Linked DNA regions of Homo sapiens: region 2 is linked to region 1. The links come from fine-mapping of genetic effects on gene expression. Tissue or cell type: subcutaneous fat. Region 1 holds a variant in brackets; the other region holds the start of a gene. All regions are shown on one strand. Distances are between the middles of the regions.

The links. PIP is the estimated chance that this variant, and not a neighbour inherited with it, causes the effect.
Region 2: NEURL2 starts here. The variant in region 1 is fine-mapped to the expression of NEURL2 in subcutaneous fat (GTEx, PIP 0.98).

What each region holds. Positions count from the first base shown.
Region 1 is chr20:45,952,657-45,960,656 of GRCh38, forward strand. ZNF335 (zinc finger protein 335) reads right to left here. Exons shown (of 28, transcript NM_022095.4): 12 at 7,960-8,000; 13 at 7,793-7,869; 14 at 7,552-7,712; 15 at 6,545-6,777; 16 at 5,179-5,272; 17 at 4,930-5,024; 18 at 1,033-1,292; 19 at 1-53. Among named protein-coding and RNA genes, the nearest start is that of ZNF335, 16 kb to the right of the region's middle. The variant C/T (reference allele first, on the strand shown) is at 4,728.
Region 2 is chr20:45,887,449-45,895,561 of GRCh38, forward strand. It overlaps NEURL2 (neuralized E3 ubiquitin protein ligase 2), which reads right to left and starts at 3,760. Exons shown (of 2, transcript NM_080749.4): 1 at 2,802-3,760; 2 at 1,186-1,425. The coding sequence starts at 3,543. The coding sequence ends at 1,310. It overlaps SPATA25 (spermatogenesis associated 25), which reads right to left and starts at 174. Exons shown (of 2, transcript NM_080608.4): 1 at 88-174. The coding sequence starts at 142. It overlaps CTSA (cathepsin A), which reads left to right and starts at 3,887. Exons shown (of 15, transcript NM_000308.4): 1 at 3,887-3,931; 2 at 4,121-4,314; 3 at 4,468-4,579; 4 at 4,825-4,875; 5 at 4,950-5,036; 6 at 5,277-5,432; 7 at 5,772-5,863; 8 at 6,540-6,624; 9 at 7,202-7,293; 10 at 7,375-7,453; 11 at 7,546-7,685. The coding sequence starts at 4,121. RefSeq lists enhancers at 3,225-3,934, 4,174-4,223 and a silencer at 3,864-4,133.

The DNA of each region.
Region 1 (8,000 bases):
TTAGGGTGTCACTCACAACCACAGCCTGGGCTGCCTCTCCTGCGGGCTCCTCGCTGTGGGCATGGAGAAGGTTCTAGGAGAAGATGGAGGGCCACAGGAGCCCCCTTCCCCAAGCAACAGGCATCAACTGAGGAGTGACTGTCACCACAGATGGACTCAAGTCAGAAGGGCCCAGGGTTCAACTGTGGCTCTGCCCTGTTACCAAATGACCCTCTACCATGTCTCTTGTAAATGATTACAACTCAAGCATGGGTCCTTCTCAAAAGCTGGTAATTCTTGTCCTCGGCAAACATGGCGAGGTGGGGGGCACACAGTGAGGCAGAGGGGTCTAACCCAACCAGTAGCAAACGGTGAATCCACCACCAGGAGCTAGTGGAGGAGGCAGGGCTAACGAGGACCTGCTGCCTAAGAGCAGACAGCAAATGCTGAGACTGGCCGCCCAGGTGCTGGCCAAGGGCATGGGCCTGGGGATCCTGACTCCCTGCTCAGCTCAACAATTTGGCACTTGGATTCAGGGCTTCCTCAGATGGCCTAAGAGTTTGGTGAACATAAACATGCCTGCCCAAGCTCATTCACTGTAGGGAAGCCAAGTACAGGTGCCAGGCCTCAATGCTGGTAAAGAGGCCTGAGCTTGCTCGGAGTGTCAGAACTGAAGAACACCTGGGATCACCCAAGAAGAGCACTTGGGCATGGGAACCAAAGGGACCAGGGTTCAAATCTCACCTACTGCATGTGTGGTTTCAGGCTGGTCACTTAACCTCCCTGGCCCATTTCCTCATTTGTAAAACAAGGGAAATCTGGGTCTCATGGGAATGGCTTAGGTCCCATCATGAGTGCCAAGTGCTTGGAATATCTAAGTGGCTAAAAAATGGTAGCTCTTGACCTCCTGAGAAGGGTAGACTCCACCACTAATCACTTGATGTGTATTGGGATTTTTGCCTCCTGCCAACTAGGCTTGGGTGGGGCCCAAATCGGACCGACCGACCACACCTACAAAAAGCTGAAAGGGGCCTTGCAGGCAGCAGGTCTCACCTGTAAGGTGTGCCAGGAGCTGATGTTCCCTCCTCCATAGGGGGTGCTGTGATGACACTGTAGCCAGTCCCACCAAATGGACCAGGTGCCAGGGTGATCTGCGGTAGGTCAGGAGGGCCTAGCTGGCTCTCGGCTGCTGCACCGCCCCCTGGCTCTGCCACGTGGAGGGTGACCACCTGTGGAGTGGCACCTTCAGGGGAGGGCTGCCCACCAGGGGATGCTAACCCTGCTTCCACATCTTCCGACTTCACCACAGCCACCTGCAACGGCACCAGGGGGCGGGATGGGAGGCACTGGTGGCAGAGGAGCGGGTATGCAAGACGCCTCCCCCATCTCAGTGTCCCAGATGCACCCACACACTCTAGTCAGACCAGTGCTGCCACCACTCATTTGAATAGCCCAAGTTCTTTCTAAAATATACTCTGGCTTTCCAAATCCCACTCAGCAACTGGAAATAGACCAACAGGAATAGGGCAGAGCAGTTGTGCCCCCCACAAAGATTTGGCAACGTCTGGAGACATTTCTTATCACAGCAGGAGGGGGATGGTACTGGCATATAGTCGGGAGAGGCCAGGGATGCCGCTGAACACCCCATAATGCACAGGACCGCCCCACCACACAATAGTATCTGCCTCAACATGCTAACAGCGCTGCAGACAAGAAATACTGGGGACAACTGACAAATCACTTAGAAAAAAGCTCCAGTGTACATCTTATTCCAGTTGGCTTCAAATGGTTTAAAGATTAAAATGTAATAAAACTCTAAATATATTAAAATAAAACGTAGGTAAGTATTTTAGAATTGGGACAGGGAGATTTTTCTAATCATGACAGAGAAAGATAAAACCTAGAGCAAAATTAACCATAAAATGAAGCCAAAAAACAAAGAAATTGGGGTTGGGGGATATTTCACAACTCATAAAAAGTGGACTTCCCTCATATATGGAGCTCCTGCAAAGCAATAACTAAAAGCTAACAATAGAAAAACAAATACAGGACACAAACAGGTACTTTAGAAAGGAATAAAATGGTCTCTGAACATACAGAGAGGAGTTCAACCTCATTTACGGTCATACAATTACTTTTTTTTTTTTTTTTTTTTTTTGAGACTGGGTATTGCTCAGGCTGGAGTGCAGTGGTACGATTACAGCTCACTGCAGCCTCAACCTCCTGGGCTCAAGCGATCCTCCCACCTCAGCCTCTCAAGTAGCTGGTACTACAGGCATGCATTGCCACACCCGGCTAATTTTTTAAGAGACAGGGTTTCACCATGTTGTCCAGGCTGGTCTCAAACTCCTGGACTCAAGCAATTCTCCTGCCTTGGCCTCCCAAAGTGCTGGGATTACAAGTGTGAGATTGGTAAAGATTTATAACGACTGAGGCCGGGCGTGGTGGCTCACGCCTGTAATTCCAGCACTCTGGAAGGCCGAGGCGGGCAGATCATGAGGTCAGGAAATCGAGACCATCCTGCTTAACATGGTGAAACCCCATCTCTACTAAAAATAAAAAAATAAAAGAAGCCAGTCGTGGTGGTGGGTGTCTGTAGTCCCAGCTACTTGGGAGGCTGAGGCAGAATGGTGTGAACCCGGGAGGCGGAGGTTGCAGTGAGCCGAGATCGCACCACTGCACTCCAGCTTGGGCAACAGAGCAAGACTCTGTCTCAAAAAAAAAAAAAAAAAAAAGATTTATAAAGACTGATAATACCCAGTGTATTGGCATGAATGCAGGGAAATATACCCTACTGGTGGCCACGTATACTGGCGTATCTTTTTACAAGGCTTCTCACCATACCCTCTGACCCACTAATTCTTCTTGTAGGAGGCTTTTTAAAAACACTACAAAGATGTTGGCTGGGTACGGTGGCTCACACCTGTAATCCTGGCACTTTGGGAGGCCAAGGCAGGCAGATCACTTGAGGTCAGGAGTTCGAAACTAGCCTGGCCAATATGGTGAAACCCTATCCCTACTAAAAATACAAAAAAGTAGCCAGGTGTGGTGACGTGCACCTGTAATCCCAGCAACTCAGGAGGCCGAGGTAGGACAATCATTTGAACCCAGGAGGCGGAGGTTGCAGGGAGCCAACATCACGCCACTGCACTCCAGCCTGGGTGACAAAATGAGACTCCATCTCAAAAAAAAAAAAAATTTATGAGCACTGAAAATATATGTACAGTGAAGCACTGCTTGAATTAATATAAAACGAAAGAACCCAGCCAATAAAGGACTGCCTAACTATAGCTGAGAACATCCATGTGATCAAATGATACAGAGATGCAAGATGGAGATCTTAGGAGAATAAGGGTAACTGCAGGTGCTGGCCAGGCCGTGCATCACATGCTGTTAGGTAAAAGATGACGCTGAGGAGCAGCCAATAATGTGATCCCATTTTTTAAGGAACAAAGGTCTAGGTGTTGGTATGAACATGAACAAATCCCTGAAGAAATTCTTCTGAACCCATTTACTGGGTATCTGATGGGAGGGGAGAAATGCCAAGGACTTTCACCTTCTACTGAAACATTTCCTAATGTTCATTTTTTTCTTTTTTTCTTTTTTTTTTTTTAGATGGAGTTTTGCTCGTTGGCCAGGCTGGAGTGCAATGGCGCAATCTCGGCTCACCGTAACCTCCGCCTCCTGGGTTCAAGCGATTCTCCTGCCTCGGCCTCCCGAGTGGCTGGGATTACAGACGTGTGCCACCACGCCCAGCTAATTTTGTATTTTTAGTAGCAATGGGGTTTCTCCATGTTGGTCAGGCTGGTCTCGAACTCCTGACCTCAGGTGATCCAGCCACCTTGGCGTCCCAAAGTGCTGGGATTACAGGCATAAGCCACCACGCCAGGCCCATTTTGTTTCTTTTACAAGCATGTGCTTTTGTAAGCAGAAAAACTCTACCACATGAGATTGGCATGGGAACAGGAGACAAATCAATAGAACAGAACTCAAGTCTAGAAACAGACTCCTACATATTTGGGAATCTAGTATATGAGGAGGACACTTCAAACCACAGGTGAAGATACCACGTCGGATGACTTCTGGAAAAAAAAAAATCGATCCCTACCTTTCTGCATACACCAGAAATAAATTCCAGGTGGAGTAAGATTTAAGTGTAAAAAATAAAACCCTAAGAAAAAAATATAAATGAATGTTTTATAACCTTGGGATACAAGTTGGGGGAGTCTTTCTAGGGATGATACCAAAGGGAAAACTATAAAAGACTGATAAATTTTCCTATCTAAAAATGTAAAACTTCTATACACCCCTAACTGCCATGAACTAAATTATTATGATTTCTGGAATTCATCATCTTAAAAACACACTCTCCATCTTCTCATGAGGCTGGGAAACAGGAGGGGCTAATAAACTTCCCTCTGCCTTGGAGACCAGGCCAGATGTGAACGGGGAGGGCAGGGAGGGGCAAAGGTGTTGAACTTTGGGGAGGTGCATGAACCAAGACCCCTGGAACGCGAGAGAGTGGTCTGATCTAGAGGAAGCCCTGGGGTCTGCAGGCTGTAGGAGGTGTCCCGGAATGAGGGCGCTCTTGTGGATGGAAAAGCTAGTTCAAGCTGTGGGGGCACCCACAGGCACATGGTGGTTGCAGAGGTGGGAGGAAGACAAAACAAGAACAGGGCCCCAGATGCCGCAGGGGCAGTGTGTACTGCTCCACCTGGCAGAGGTCACCAGTGATTCTGGAGAATGGA[C/T]GGGATACCCTGCGGCCTCCGTGGCAAAGCCTGTTCCTCTCTGTTTGCCCACCAGACTTCAGCAGATCTGTCTCCTCCACTGCCTGGGAGCTCCCAAGGGCGGAGAAGCTCTGATACACTGTTTTCCTCTAGTCCCAGTGTCCAGTGCAGGGCTGGGTACCTGCGGTAGCTGGGAAGGGGAGCAGGTTCCCAGGCAGCTCACCTGCAGGGCTGTGCCCCCCAGTTCCCGCTGAGCACTCATGTTCAGCAGAAGATCCAAGGCTGTCTGCGTGGCCATCGCTGTCGACTCCTCAGCTCCTGGGTGGGGTGGGACCTAAGCCTGACAAAGTGCTAGAAAACTGGCACCCAATACCACCCCCTCCCCATCTTCCAGCCCCCACCAGCACGACCTGCCCCTGCCCAACTCAGAGGTCCTACCCTCCATGAGCTCCTATCCTCCTACAGAGCTCACCTTGCTGGTAGATGATGGTGGCGCCGCCCAGGGTGTCAGAACAGAGCAATGAGGGAGCCTCAGATGACTGGAAAGTTGTCGCCTCTGGGGGTATCTATGGGGTGGAGATATGGCCACGCCTGAGAGGGGCCAGCCCAGATTCAAGTGCCATTTGCCAAGCACCTCTGATCTGCCAGATGTTTTACATCTGTTGGCTTGTTTCATCTTCATAACCACTTTTCTTTTTTTTTTTTTGAGATGGAGTCTCTCTGTCATGCAGGCTGGAGTACAATGGCTCAATCTAGGCTCACTACAACCTCTGCCCCTGGGTTCAAGTGATTCTTGTGTCTCAGCCTCCTGAATAGCTGGGATTACAAGTGGCCGCCACCACACCCAGCTAATTTTTATATTTTTAGTAGAGATGGGGTTTCTCCATGTTGGTCGGCTGGTTTCAAACTCCTGACTTCAAGTGATCCACCCACCTCGGCCTCCCAAAGTGCTGGGATTACAGGCATGGGCCACCATGCCCAGCCCATAACCAGTTTTCAAAATATACGAGCTCAGTGCTACAGATGAACCCACTAAGGCTCAGAGAGGTGAAGTGGCTGGCCAAGAATCCCACTCCTAATACATAGTAGGGTGAGGGCTTGAACCCATGACTGTGTGATTCCAGGGCCTGTGATCTACCAGCAAGTCATGTGGTCCATCTTTCCAGGGATAGTGTGTCAGCTCACGTGGCAGAGACTGCTAGCTACCTATCCTGAGGCCATCCTCCTCTTCCCTCTTGCTAACAGAACTCTGATTTTCACCAGGGTGGCAATGTACCCAGCTCCAAGACATTTCTCAGCCTCCCTTGCAGCTAGGTAAAGTGTGGCCACATGACTAAGCAACGATCTTCAGGTGAAGTTCATGAGGAATGATGGATAGATGGTAGGTATCCTTTTTGCCTCTCCCCCATCCCTTCCTCCTGCTTCCTGCCTGGGATGTGGCTGGGAAGGCTGGTGCTCCTGCAGCTATACTGGACCATGAGGCAACTACAAAGATGAAAGTCATATGCCTGGGATGACTGGGCAAAGATACTGAGAACTTATTCCCTTACGACTGTATAATCACCGCACCAGCCCTAGACTGCCGACCTGTGGAATTCTTGTATAAGAGAGAATAAAAACTATGATCACAGTTAAGTTACTGGTGTTTCCATTCTCTATTACCAGCACTAGAAAGCCACCCTTACTCTAAGCTTAGGGCTGGCATATGTGTGACTCAGTGAGTTTTTACCACAGTCTCAAGAGGCAGGGATTATTTTGTTGCATCTCAATGTGCAAATGATGCTGGGGCTGGGAGAAGCGGCCTCACTCTGTCATCCTGACCCATGCCCCGACCTTACCTCAGGAGGTCCTGGGGAACTGGGAGGTGGTCCAGGGGCCGCACTGTGCTGCTGCTTCAGCTCCTCAATCTGCTGCAGAGAGAAGAAGGGGCGACGGCGGGAGGGGGGCTCCTCAGGGTGGCGCCTCCCCCATTCCTCGAAGCTGCTTGCGTGTCGGCACCGTACGTGCAGGCGCAGGTTCTTCTTGTGCCGTGTGCTGAAGTGGCAGTACTCACAGGCGAAGGGCTTGGCCCCTGGAGGCACATGTTGGGGCATGCTTAAGTCTGCCCGTCCCTAGCCTACCCCCTCCAGGAATCCTTTCTTGACCCTAAGGATCTCTCCAACTGACTGACTTCCAGCGATTCATTCCCGTATGTAGGCAAACACATGCCACTGTCCATTCTGGTGGCCCAGGACAGAAATGAATCAGGGCCGCCCTCTGCACTCAAGAGCCTTCCTGTGCCTACCTATTTGCAAAGTCATGTGACTACAAGCTCCTGTGGGTCATCACAGGACTCTGGCTAAGGGAACCCCTGGCTCCTTTTCTGTAATCGCCCCTAGTGTGCTGACCAGGGAGCTAGGCACCAAAGAAACAATGTTTGCAGTGCAGCTTCTGTGGGCCAAGCCAATGGCGTTGCTTCTGCAGCTTCATCTGCCAAGGCAGGGTCTGGAAGAGCCTCCTCTCCAGCCCCAGTGCCAGCACACACAAGGCTCAAGGAACAAATGGAACTTACTTTCATCATAGCCATATGGCAGGCACTCTGATTCCCCCATTTCATAAATATGGAAGGCTCGGAGAGGGCAAGCGACCGGCCCAGAGCCATCCAGAGAACAACCAGCCAAGCAGGAACCCAGGCTCAGGTTAGGGTGAATACGCCTATGGGAAATTCTCTTTACACTTGAAGGACTTGGGCTGTTCTGTGGCTGGGGCTACCGAGGGGGAAGGAAGAGGATGGGAGCTAAGCCTCTGATCAGGGGTACAGGGCACTGAGGGCTGGTGAGTGGGGCTGGGGTGTGTCCAGCCTGACCTGTGTGCTTGACAGCCACATGGGACAGCAAGAAGTCCTCTCGGAAGGTGCGGTAGGGACAAAAGCTGCATTTGAAGGGCTTGTCACTGACGTGGGACAACTGGTGGTTCAGCAGTGCCTTCTTGTCTTCACAAACAAACTCACAGAACTCACACTTGAACCTGGAGGCGGTTAGAGGGAGGGAAGCTCAGTAATGAGCTGGGGACTGCTCCCGTCCCCAGGGGCCTCCAAGGGGATGTACCTGCGGTTGGCAACAGCCTGGATGTGCGTGAGCAGGTGCATTTTGAAGGTGTAGCGCTTCTTAAAGGACTTTCCACACTGTGAGGGGTGGAGAGCAGTGAGATGGCGATCACCCTCCATCACCCAGGGGAGGCCCTCCTCTCAGCCCCAGCCCTGGCTCCCACCCACCTTGTCACACATGTGGGGCTTCTCAGTGCTGTGCGTCTTCA
Region 2 (8,113 bases), 65 kb before region 1:
GCAGAACCGCCACCTCCCCAGAGCCAGAAAGCAACTTCTCAGGGGAAGCTGCCGCACTCCCTCCAATTGCAGGTGCCCCCCGCTCACCTTGGCCGGAAGGCAGAGGACCTGGATGAGTTTGTGGAGTCCTGAAGTAGGACATGGCTTCCCCAAAGCCCCGGTTTGTGAGGGAATAGTGATCTGCCGCCTGTCCTCCCTTCTTCACCCTTCTAGAATGTCACCTCATAGACCCTCCCCTTCACACTTGGAATCCACTTTACAGCGTTGACCTATTCATTCTAGAACCTGGACATGACAATAGGATGAGGTTAAAAGAGCACCAGACCAGGAGCTGGGTGTTCTAGGTTCTTGCCCTAACCTTGAACGAGTCACCCAGATAGTTTTGTTCCTTGATATCCTTATCTGTAAAGTGTGTCTGATGACTGCCCACTACCTCATTAGGAGTTTTGAGGATGAAATGAGATCATTTGTATGGAAGCAGATGACCAGAGATGGAAACACAGGAGCCAAGTGCTTCGTGCCTTGTAGAGTAAGACTTCGGGTCAGACCCAGTATTGGTATTTTTCTTTTTCTTTTTTTGAGACAGAGTCTCACTTTGTCGCCATGACTGGAAGGCTGGAGTGCAGGAGCAAGACCTCAGCTCACTGCAACCTCTGCCTCCTGGGTTCATGCAATTCTCCTGCCTCAGCCTCCCGAGTAGCTGGGACTACAGGAACCTGCCACCACACCTGGCTAACTTTTGTATTTTTAGTAGAGACAGGGTTTCACCATGTTGGCCAGGCTGGTCTCAAACTCCTGACCTCAAGTGATCTGCCCACCTCGGCCTCCCAAAGTGCTGGGATTACAGGCCAGGTATTGGTATTTTTCAAAATTCCTCAAGTGATTATAATATATGACAAAGTTGGAACCTTTTTTCTAGGGACATACTTCTCAACCCTGGCTGTACATGAGAATCTCTTGAGAAGCTTTTACAAAACACAATGTCTAGGCCTAATTTCCCAACAAATCAAATACGAATCCCTAGGGATGGGATGTGGGACACCAGCACTCTTTACATATCCTAAGATGACTCTAACAAGCAGCCAGCCTAGGGACCCCTGCTCTTTTGCTCCGACCTGCTGACCTGCAGTGATTCTAAACGAAGTGACTCTCATAGGCTGTAGGGGCAAGGAGACCTTCCAGTGATCAAGATGTCAGCATCGGCTGTTTATTTCTGGTCTTGGCTGGCAGCAATGTGGCCAACTTCGGACCAGCCAGCCACAGGTCTGGGGCTCCAGGATGCAGCTGTGCTCTGGTGCACTGTGGGTCTTCACTCATACTTGCAGAAATCCTTAAGTTCTTTGGGCAGGTGGAGCCCATCAATGGCCAGCCGGTGCACCATGCTCCTTTGTATCACTAGGCGGCACAGAGTCTGCAGGGATGGCACTGTGGGAAGAAGACTGTGAAAGGCAAACTGAACTGGAGGGTGGGTCTGAGGCCAAGATCCAGAAGGTCTAGGTCATGGTCCCCACTTTGTCATTAAATGTGGGCAAGTCCTTACTGCTCTCTGGGCCCAGCCTGCTTCATGGGGCTGAGAGAAGCACCTCTTCCTGAGAGCTGCCACAAAGCTGCAGCCCTGTTTATATCATAACACTTAGCACAATCCCTTCCCCATTCACTTAGCAGCTTCTGGGGGCAGGGGTAGTGTCTGATTTGCCTGTGCAACTGAAGCCTCCAGCACAGGCCTGGCACAAAGAGGGTTCTGGTGCATTGAGTTCATGAAATGTGATGAGAGGTATAACTGCAATGCTTACCAGGGCTATAATGAATCATACTCAGCATTAAGAAGCTCTCAGTCTGGGGTTTGTTATGCCTCGAAGCCAATAGCCAATATGCCCAAGTCTATGAGCATGTTTCTTTCTTTTCTTTCTTTTTTTTTTTTTATTTAAAGAGAGAGGGTCTTGCTCTGTCACCCAGGCTGAAGTGCAGTGCTCAGTGAACTGCAGCCTTCAATTCTTGGGCTCAAGCGATCCTCCTGCCTTAGCCTCCCAAATAGCTGGGACTACAGGCATGCACCACCATGCCCAGATAATTATTTAATTTTTTGTACAGATGGGGTCTCACTTTGTTGCCCAGGCTTGAGCTAGCTAGCTTGCTTGCTTGCTTGCTTTCTCTCTCTTCCTCTCTCTCTCTCTTTCTTTTTTTTTTCAGAGTCTTGCTCTGTTGCCTAGGCTGGAGTGCACTGGTGAGATCTCGGCTCATTGCAACCTCCACCTCTCGGGTTCAAGTGACTCTCCTGCCTCAGCCTTCTGAATAGCTGGGATTATTGGCACATGCCACCACACCCAGCTACTTTTTGTATTTTTAGTAGAGACAGGCTTTCACCATGTTGGCCAGGCTGGTCTCGAACTCCTGGCCTCAAGTGATCTGCCTGCCTCCCCCTCCCAAAGTGCTGGGATTACAGGTGTGAGCCACTGTGCCCGGCCAAGCATGTTTCTAAGAAAAGGGCAAACAATTCTCAAAGAGGCCCCTAATATCTAAAATTGGTTTAGAATCCCTGCCCTAGGTGAATACAGGAAACACTATCAAAACTAAAAGGGAACTTGTAGGGCATCTTAATCAATCAACCAAGATAGGTACCAAGGCCCAAAACCATGTAGAGGCTTGTGCAAGATCACAAGCAGAGGTGCAATTTGAAGCTAGATTCTCCCACTCTTAAACTAGTGCCGGACAGACGAAGGCCTAGCACATGGGCTACGGAGCCCTAGTAGATTCCAGTCCCCACACTGAGCCAGGAGGGGTCGCTGCCCAGGGATACCTACAGCCATACTCGAGCTGGACAAGGCGCACGCTCTTTGTGGAAGCAAACACGTCCACCACCGCGTAGAGGGGCTGCGCAGCTGGCAGTCCCCGGGCGCTCGGGCCCATGTCCTCGCCGTTGATGATGATGTGCATGTCGGCCGTGCCATCGGGGCGCGGGCAAAAGAGGACACCCAGGCGGCTACGGCGCGCGGTCGGAGGCAGCACGTTCAGCTCATAGAGCTGGTCCAAGAGATGGCTGTAGAGCCCTGGCCGGCTGCGGCCCACCAGGCGGTCCCGGGGAATGCGAAACTGCTCAATGCGCAGATATGGTTCCACGAGGAGGGTTGGAGGTCGGCTGGGGGCCGCTGCCTCCGCCTCCGGGCGGCCCTCCCGGGGCACGCGGTTGTGGTGGCGCGTGATGGCGAAGACCCAGGTGTGGCCCAGGTTGACCAGATCGGGCAGAGAAAACTCGGGAACGGGGGCCAGACTGGCGGGGTCCAGCGCGGTCAGACCGAGACGCAGATGTCCGCACCAGCCCAGCTCTTTCTCCTCGATCTCGACCAGGAAGACCTGGCCCGGGGCCAGCGGCTCGCGGCTGAAGCACACGCCGTGGGCGAAGCTCTCCACGCGTGTGGCCCGCGTCCCAGAGGGGTCCACGCGGATGTTGGCACCGTGCACCCGATGGAAGCGGGTGGGAGGGGGCTCCGGGCGCTCGAGTCCCCAGAGTGCACCCGAATCCACGGGCTCGGAGGCAGCAGCCATCTCTCGGCCATAGGGCAGGCCAGCTGGCGCCGGGGGCTATTTTGGGCGGCGGGCAATGATGGTGACCGCAAGGCGACCTTGTAAGGCATTTCCCCCCTGACTCCCTTCCCCGAGCCTCTGCCCGGGGGTCCTAGCGCCGCTTTCTCAGCCATCCCGCCTACAACTTAGCCGTCCACAACAGGATCATCTGATCGCGTGCGCCCGGGCTACGATCTGCGAGGCCCGCGGACCTTGACCCGGCATTGACCGCCACCGCCCCCCAGGTCCGTAGGGACCAAAGAAGGGGCGGGAGGAAGACTGTCACGTGGCGCCGGAGTTCACGTGACTCGTACACATGACTTCCAGTCCCCGGGCGCCTCCTGGAGAGCAAGGACGCGGGGGAGCAGAGGTGAGCTGGCACCGGAGGCTGGAGGGGATCCCCGAGCCCGGGATCGGTGCGCGGCAGAGGAGGCTCGCGGGTGGGAGCTGGCGCTGGGGCCGGGGCTTCCCTCGCGGAGGCGCCGCCAGCAACTCCCCGGGGGCTGCTGCACGGAAGCGCTGAGGAGCGAGTCAACAGCCCCTCTGCTGCCTCCCGTAGATGATCCGAGCCGCGCCGCCGCCGCTGTTCCTGCTGCTGCTGCTGCTGCTGCTGCTAGTGTCCTGGGCGTCCCGAGGCGAGGCAGCCCCCGACCAGGACGAGATCCAGCGCCTCCCCGGGCTGGCCAAGCAGCCGTCTTTCCGCCAGTACTCCGGCTACCTCAAAGGCTCCGGCTCCAAGCACCTCCACTACTGGTCTGCCGCCCTGCCTTCTGGGCGGGATTGGGAGAAGAGATGACGGATGAGGGATGGGGGGTAGTTCTGCAGACCCCTGAGGATGCCTGGGAGCCGGGAGGGCTGGAAAGGGCCCCTCCAACTGCGCCAACCCTGCCCTGACCCCCCTCCCAGGTTTGTGGAGTCCCAGAAGGATCCCGAGAACAGCCCTGTGGTGCTTTGGCTCAATGGGGGTCCCGGCTGCAGCTCACTAGATGGGCTCCTCACAGAGCATGGCCCCTTCCTGGTGAGTGGACAGCAGGGGGAAAGCACAGTTCCCAAAGTAAAAGGCTGGGGAAAGCGAGAGAGGGGCTTTGTGATTTTCCAAAAAGTTTCCTTCCTTCTAAGCCTCGGGATTTTCCTCTATGCCATTGGCTTTGCTGCCTGTACCTCTCAGAGGTTTTACCCACATGTAAAGTGCCTCTCATGGTGGCCCTTTCCCTCCACCCAGCTGGCCCTTGGGACTTACTCAGCCATCTCTTTCCTCCTCAGGTCCAGCCAGATGGTGTCACCCTGGAGTACAACCCCTATTCTTGGAATCTGGTATAGCTGGAGCTGTGGGTGTGTCTGGGCACTTGGATGGGGTGGCATTTAGCTAATTTTTCCCTCCCCTCTAGATTGCCAATGTGTTATACCTGGAGTCCCCAGCTGGGGTGGGCTTCTCCTACTCCGATGACAAGTTTTATGCAACTAATGACACTGAGGTGAGTCTGGTGCCTGCCCATCTGCCCCAGGCTCCCCGGTCCTCCATCCATGGCATGATGCTGGGAGAGAGAGCATGGCCTTGGAGTCTACTTTTCGCTCTGTCATATGCTATTGTGGTATGGTGGCCAGTCACTTCCTCTTGCACAAATAGGGTGGGTTAATGTCATTATCTCTGAAGTTCTTTCCAGTTCAAATACCAAAGCTTCCTGATTCCCTCTGTCTTGCTCTGCCATCCCCAGGTCGCCCAGAGCAATTTTGAGGCCCTTCAAGATTTCTTCCGCCTCTTTCCGGAGTACAAGAACAACAAACTTTTCCTGACCGGGGAGAGCTATGCTGGCATCTACATCCCCACCCTGGCCGTGCTGGTCATGCAGGATCCCAGCATGAACCTTCAGGTGCAGGGTAGCTGCAGGAGGGAAGGGAGGTAGCTTGAGGCTGTGGCCTTACAGTTAGCAAGGTCAGACTGACTGGTCAATGTCCCCATCCAACCCAGCTTCCTGCATAACCTCCCCACCACCGGCTGCCCTAGGTCTGTCTGTGTGCCTCCCACACAGGAAACTCACCTGTCAGGCTGCCAGCTCTGTGTTTTGCATTGAGTGGCCTCTCATACCCACCGGCCTACATAAACCACCCTGGGTTTCAGCTTCCGGATTGCTGAAGGTCTGGGTGGTAGGGTGAGGGAGGCTCTTCCTTTTTGCCCTCCACATGAGCTGAGCACCCTGGGTGTTTCACAGGGGCTGGCTGTGGGCAATGGACTCTCCTCCTATGAGCAGAATGACAACTCCCTGGTCTACTTTGCCTACTACCATGGCCTTCTGGGGAACAGGTATGGGATAGGGCAGTTGGGCAATCTCTGGGGTGAGGCAGGTCACATGATCTCAGGTCTGTCCTCCAGGCACATGATATGACAGGCCCAGCCCAGGTTTATGAGCAGCAGGTGGGTTGCAGAAAGAACCTAGTGCTGAAAGGCCAAAGAATAGAGATCAGTTTTTCTTTCTTTCTTTTTTTTTTTTTTGAGACAGATTCTTACTTTGTCACCCAGGCTGGAGTGCAGTGGCACGATCTTAGCTCACTGCAACCTCCACCTCCCAGGTTCAAGCAATTCTCATGCCTCAGACTCCCAGGCAGCTGGGACTACAGGCGCGTACCACCACACCTGCCTAATTTTTTGTATTTTTAGTAGAGATGGGGTTTTGCTGTGTTGGCCAGGCTGGACTTGAACTCCTGGCCTCAAATGATCTTCCCAAAGTGCTGGGATTACAGGCATGAGCTACAGCGCCCAGCCAGAAATCAGATTTTAAAGGAACTAAGGAGGCCTGTCTGTATGACCCTGGGGCACCTCTTTGGGAGCTAGCTTAGATGACATACAGACCACACCCTGTGATATCTTTCCCAGTCTCCTAGGGTCAGGGAGGTTGGTGGGAGGTGGGGGGTATGCTCGCCTCCTCTGCCTTCCTCTTCCCACCAGCAGCTGATGCGCTTTTCACTCTCATCTCCTACAGGCTTTGGTCTTCTCTCCAGACCCACTGCTGCTCTCAAAACAAGTGTAACTTCTATGACAACAAAGACCTGGAATGCGTGACCAATGTGAGGTTCTGCCATCACTTTGCATGAGCTCTCCCATCCCTAATCCTGAGAACAGGACCACATTCCCTCCTTGGGGACTCCTTGTTCTCCGTCCCTCATTGCTTTCTTGCACCTTTAAGCAATTTAGTGTTCTCTGGGACATGTGTCTAAGTGTGTATTCCCACCACCACCTCCTATGGTGGCAAATCCCATAACCTCCGTGAGGAGAAAGGACTTCTTCACATTTATCAAACACCTGCAACGTGGCAGGCACTGTGCTGAACTGTGTCTATGTAGATTATTTAAGCTTCAAGATTCCCCCTCAAATGAGATCATACTACCCACATTTTCCAGATAAGGAAACTGAGGGCTATGAATTTTGAAATCACTGTCTGAAGTCACAGTGTTGGGAGGCAGTGATGCTAGGATTTGGACCCAGGTCTGGGAAGATTCCTGCCACTGAGCCTCAGTTTCCCTACCTGTGAAAAAAAGTGGGTGAAGAGGTGAAATCCAAGAGCAGTAAATCTTGGGACAACTTGGTGGGGTCGTGGAGAGGCTGGGGATCTGTAAAGCATGGTGGCTTGGTGTATCATTGCAGCTTCAGGAAGTGGCCCGCATCGTGGGCAACTCTGGCCTCAACATCTACAATCTCTATGCCCCGTGTGCTGGAGGGGTGCCCAGCCATTTTAGGTAGGTGCTGCTGGGTGCCCCTGGAGCCAACCCCAGCCCCATCTGGAGGCTCCACACCCATTCCCCCACCTCACATTGCAGGTATGAGAAGGACACTGTTGTGGTCCAGGATTTGGGCAACATCTTCACTCGCCTGCCACTCAAGCGGATGTGGCATCAGGTGTGCGAGGGCGTGGGCTTCCTCCTGGTGAGGTGGGGGCAGGGGGAGGGGCAGGGAAGCAGAGGCCCTGACCCACTGTCTGTGCCTTCCAGGCACTGCTGCGCTCAGGGGATAAAGTGCGCATGGACCCCCCCTGCACCAACACAACAGCTGCTTCCACCTACCTCAACAACCCGTACGTGCGGAAGGCCCTCAACATCCCGGAGCAGCTGCCACAATGGGACATGTGCAAGTGAGGTTCCGTGGCCACCTGTGACTTGGGGTGGTGGGTTGCTGGGGCTTGTGGGCATCGGCAGGTTTCTCAGGGATCTTCTGTGTAGAGTTTCTCAATGAGATGAGCTGTAGAGGATGTTTAACATCCATCCCTGACCCCTCAGTGGATTGAGAGTCAGCCAATTCATTCTTTTATCTTTTTTAAATTTAAAATTTTTTTGTTTGAGACAAGGTCTCACTCTGTCACCTAGGCTGGAGTGCAGTGGTGTGATCATAGCTCACTGCAGCCTCAAACTCATGGGCTCAAGCAATCCTCCCACCTCCCCAGTAGCTGGGACTACAGACGCACCACCACCCCCAACAAGTTTTTGTATTTTTTGTACAGATGGTGTTTTACCACATTGCTCAGGCTGGTTTTGAACTCTGGGGCTCAAGTGATCTGCCCAT